2 separate regions of the Homo sapiens genome follow, and region 1 is linked to region 2. The links come from fine-mapping of genetic effects on plasma protein levels. A gene starts in region 2. The other region holds a variant in brackets. All regions are shown on one strand. Distances are from middle to middle.

Evidence for each region. A credible set is the group of variants that fine-mapping cannot tell apart. PIP is the chance, under the fine-mapping model, that this variant and not a neighbour inherited with it causes the effect. Sun 2018 read protein levels with aptamers (SomaScan).
Region 1: its variant is the best candidate, but not a certain one, in a credible set for the plasma level of the B4GALT2 protein (Sun 2018, PIP 0.67).

Annotation. Positions count from the first base shown.
Region 1 is chr1:43,911,996-43,914,495 of GRCh38, reverse strand. All of the region lies in intron 9 of ST3GAL3 (ST3 beta-galactoside alpha-2,3-sialyltransferase 3), which reads right to left. Among named protein-coding and RNA genes, the nearest start is that of ARTN, 21 kb to the left of the region's middle. RefSeq lists an enhancer at 1-779. The variant C/T (reference allele first, on the strand shown) is at 1,271.
Region 2 is chr1:43,978,000-43,980,499 of GRCh38, reverse strand. It overlaps B4GALT2 (beta-1,4-galactosyltransferase 2), which reads right to left and starts at 1,290. Exons shown (of 7, transcript NM_003780.5): 1 at 989-1,290. ATP6V0B (ATPase H+ transporting V0 subunit b) reads right to left here. Exons shown (of 8, transcript NM_004047.5): 8 at 2,205-2,500. The coding sequence ends at 2,493. RefSeq lists silencers at 917-1,026, 1,297-1,396 and enhancers at 814-1,405, 1,406-1,996, 1,997-2,500.

The DNA of each region.
Region 1 (2,500 bases), 66 kb after region 2:
TCCAAAACGGCATTCTTTCCACCACACCATTTGTATCATCGCTGCAGTTCCCGCCTCTGGAAGTCTGAGGGGTTAGGGGTCAAAGATAAAGGAGACCTCCCCTGTCTCCTCTAAGAGCACTAAGGGAGCTCTCAGGAGTCTCTCTGGTGCCCATGTCCCATTTTTCAGAGGGGACTAAGGCCCAGAATGGTGAGGGGACTCGTCAGGGTACACGCACAGCTGGTGAGAATCTGAGCTGCGTTTGACTTCACAACCTGTTTTTCTGCACATGAGATGCCCTCTCTGAAACAATCCCTCTTGGTCTGTTCCATATGCTAAAAGTCCCGGATTTAATCACCATCTCAAATGGCAGGAAATTCGCTTATTAACTCAACCCCCTTGGCGATCTGATGGGGAGGGGAAAGCTGCCACGTCTCTTCTCATCTTTACTCTTTCCTGGGAGGAGAAATGCCTGATGGGACTGCTTAGATTTGAGGATACTGAGTGTGTCACGATTACTGGTGTGAGGTGAAAATTCTCTCCCACAAAGGCAGCCCTTCCTGAGTTGCTGCCTCTGCATGGCGGTGGGTGAGCTGGGCAGGGCCTCCTCCTTGGAGCAGGCCACCTCTGCCTCTGCCCTTCGTGGCTCACTGCGCTGAGGTCTTACTGCCCTCGGTTCTTACTCGGCCAGCAGCGGCTGAGAGTCATGTTGGGACCCTGGGGAAGGAGCCCTGTTTTAGGTCACGATCCCAGGGAGCCCTGCACTGGAGAACTGGGAGCCCGACACAGCGACAGTCCAGCGCTCCTTTTATTCTTTCTTGTCTGCCACTGTCCTGGTGTAGTTTCCTCAGAGATTTCAGGGAAAGGAGAAACAGTAAGACCAAGATATGGTTTGGGCATTTCCGTGTTTCCCCAGCCACAAAAATATCAAGTACCAACAAAACCTCAGCCTGTTTCCTAAAAAAAAAAGCTGTAACTCCTCTTCTCAGAAAAACGTCCACAGGCACATACACAGAACATCTGTGTACCACTGCAGCTTTGGGAGTGTGAAAAACAGAGGCTTAATCCCAGCTCCACATCTCTGTGACCAGGGGCACATTGTGTCCTCTCTTTAAGCCTCAAGTTCCTTGTGCATACAATAGGGCTGAGAAGACCTACTTCCCAGATAGCTGTAAGGATTAGAGATGCTGTGCGTTTTACAGCATCTGGCACGGGGTCTGGTATACAGCAAGCTCAATAAATCTTACTTATTATGATTATAGTGAGTGTCACAGAGGCCAGGAGAGTGAAG[C/T]GGAGGGTGTGGTCAGCAACATCAGCCACCGGAGAGGCCGGAACACATTCACATATCCATACCTGCACACGTACATGCATTTGAATGGGAGAGCCAGCCTTTCCCCCTGGCTCCCGGTGGGGAGGTCTGCCTGCTGCTGGAGACACTGCCAGCCCTGCTGCCAGCACACAGTCCTATTCCACAAGGCCTCTGCCTGCAAGTGTCCACATCTGGCCCAAGGCTTCTCACATCTCATTTCCCCAATCCACAGGACACAACAGAGGCCTACAAAGCCAGCCAGTGCTGCTGGCCCGGCATGGTCCAGCTTCTCCTCAAGGCCAGCTGTGGGCTGCATTCCTTGTCAAATCCCTCCTCCTTCAGGAATGTCCCTGCCTCAGTCAAGTCTGGACCCAGCTCCCCTGTGTGAAGCTGCCAGACTCCTGCTGATGCAACCTGTTCTGCTCTTGTCAGAACATCCAGGAGCAATGGGGAAAACATCTGGGAAGAAAGCACTTTCCCCACCAGGCTCCTGAGAGAATGTTTCCTGGTGTGCTCACAGGTCTGGGAATAGAGATTAACCATGGTAGGCTTTCACAGCAAGAGTAGGCAGATGTGTCCACGCCTATGCTCCCTGCTGCTACTGCCTTAGGACGGACCACCAACTCTCCTGGGGTGACTCTAACAGCCATCAGCTCTCTCTGACTCCCTCTTGCTTTCCCTTCAGTTTATTCACATCCCTGCACAAATCTGATCTCGACATTCTCAGGCTTAAAATCTTCAGTGGCTTTCCACTGCCCACTGCAACAGCTTGTGTTGACAATTAAGAGTGCAGGTCTGATTGTGAACCCTCACACCCCCAACTACTCTAACTCTGTACCCCTAAGCAAGTTCTTTACTCTTCTAAGTCTCATCATCCTCTCCTATAAAATAAGGGCAGTAATACTAGCTCTCCTTTATAGTGTTTTTGTGTTATGACAGTTTGAAGTCATGCATATAATATGTTTGGCACAAAGTCAGCTCTTGTTAGCTTCTGCTATTATTGGTCCTCAGGATAAGGTCCAGGCTCCTTGATGAGACTTTGGCTTTTAAGACCCTTCACCATCTGTCCCCTGCTCACCTAGCCTCATCTCCAGCCACTGCCACCATATCCATGTAGGTTCAACCCCTAACATTGTTGGGCCAAGGACAAAATTACAAATGGACGTATTACACACATATCACGTGTCTAAAATTTAATTCTAAATATCTGAA
Region 2 (2,500 bases):
CTGGGAAGTTGCCCTCAGCATCCGGGGGGCCCAAATACAGACTGGATGTTTACAGAATCCCTTCCCACTGGAGCAAAACGTCAAAATACGGGGCAAGGCAGGGGACACCCCTCACTTAAGACCTCAAAGCCAGCCCCTTGGGACTGGGACCAAGACTCTGGGTCCTGCCCAGCACAGCTGGTTCTGATTCCCGGAACGGGATGCTTGGGCCTGGAGATGGGCACAGCACTGGGCATGGCAGGAAGGGGGTCTTGCCTGGGCGATGGCTCCAGCTGTGGTTCCAAGAGAGCGGCAGCCACTTCTGGCAGTGCTTCAGGGAGCAGGGTGAGTCTCACAGGCACACAGAATCACAGGGACACCCTGGTCCCAGCTGGTCACCCACACTCAGACACACAGAGAACTACAGTCACAGACACACCCGGGTGACAGTAACACACTAAGTCCCACACTCACAAACAAGGCCACTGCTCCTGGACTTCCACAGCCATACATCCAGACTCTCAGACAGCTCACACCCAGACCCACGTGCAGACATTCCCACCCTCCCTCCGGCGCAGGGGTTCTGGGTCAGGCTGGCGGCCAGGCTGAGGGGTGCGTTTGGGCGGGGCTGGCAGGCTGAACACGTGGCACCCGCGGACGGGCAGGCCGCACAGACCGGGTGGGTGTGGAGCCTGGGGGCAGGGGGAGTGGGTGGAGGGCAGCGGATGAGGCAAAGGCCAAGGGGAAACGTGTATGGAACGCCTCCCCGCGCCACGAGGCCGGGGCGAGCGAGGACAATGAGGGAGGCCGGCTGGACGCGGGCGGAGAAGCCCAGGAGGGGCGCCGGAGTGGGGGCGGGGTGGGGGCAGCCAGGCCGGGGTCTGGCCGCCGGCGCCTCTCTCACCGGCTCCTGGGTTGGGATCTCGGGGCCGCGCTCGGGGTGCCCCTCGCGGGGCTGGGTCTGGAATCTCGGGGCCCTGGGTGGGGGCCGCGCGCGCCCTCCTCTCACCCGGCGCTCGGGGCTCAGCAGGGGACGCCGCTCCGACTTGGGCAGGGCTCCCGGCTCCGGCGGCTGCGGACGGTTCCGTCCCCCATGGCCCGGCCCCGCCGCCTCCCGCCGCCCGGTCAGCGGCCACCGCGGCCCCCGGGTCGCCTCCCGCCGCCGCCGCCGCCGCCGCCGCCGCGGGCCATGGAGCCGAGCCGCCCCGGGGGGCAGGGCGGGGCCGGGCGGCCGGGCAGACCCACGGACCGGCGGACCCACGGACCACAGCGCCGCCGCCTCCCTCCCGCGCTACGGCGCCTCGGAGGGGCAGGCCCGGCCCGCGCGCCCGCGCGCGCGCCCCCGCGGCCCCCGCCTCCAGCACGCCCGCACCCGCCGCGCGCCGCTGCGAGCCCGCCCTGCCGGCGGCCGAACCCGGGCACCCAGGAGGCACGGACCTGGGAGCGCGGGAGGAAATGGGTCAGGCTCGTCCAAAGGGTGGGCTTAGAGGTCGGACCGGCGAGCGGGTGCAGACCGTGGAGTCCCTTAGCGGGGAGTGGGGATTGCATTGGAGCGCGAACTCCCCAGGAAGGGGACCTGGAGGTTGGGCGGACTCAGGCTGCGGGGCTAGGGATTTGTCAACTCTTTAATTGGACCAAGATTCAAGGTCGGCCAGCAGAGAGGGGGCAGGACCCTTAAAGGCGTGGGCTGGAGGTGGCTGGGGCTTCTGGGGTAACAGGAAACAGGGTCAGGGAAGGAGAAAACGAGATTGGATGGGGTGGGAGGAGCTGCCCTGGGCCCTGGGAACAAGGATCAGAGTAGAGGTTTCTGGGAGGGGCTGCTGCTAGAAGGACAGGACCATCACTGGAGGCAGAGACCACTGCCTAGGCTCCAGGCCTCACAAGGACGGAGATGATGGTGCCCGACTGTACAACCAGGTAAGTAGATGCTGTCAGACAATTCGGGCATGGTGGTCAGTCAGAGCCCTGAGCAAACGGGCCTAGAAGGACTACAGGCACAAACACACCCAGGGGCCCCTATCTGCACACTCCCTCATCCCCAAACAAGTCTGTTTGGGGGTTAGAGTCCACCCAGCACCCGTGCCTCCCCACCTAGGAGCAAGCTCTGTGCAGATCAGAAGTGTGCAGTCAGAAAGCTGACAAGGGATTGGCATGAGGCTGAGGCGTACAGGCCTCTTTACCCTTCCTCTGTGAACGGTGACGCAAGAGGGCAACAGAAGCTGCACTGACCCAGACAAATACCAAGTTTATTTCACAAACACTAGGAAGATGGGTTGAGGGTGGAGGTGGGGGACACAGGTGCGCAGCTGCACAGAGTCAGCAGCAGCAGCCTGCTCCCCGCACTGAGGACTCGGCCTGGACTGCAGTGCCTCCAAATCAACACGCAGCAAGAGGGGAGTGCAGGGAGGGCCCTGAACACCAAGCCTCTGAAAGGCTAAGGGACACAGCTCCAGCTGTCCCAGGAAAACCAGCAATAAATAAAAGTGAGGCACGGCCCCACCCACACATATCATCTAGTCAC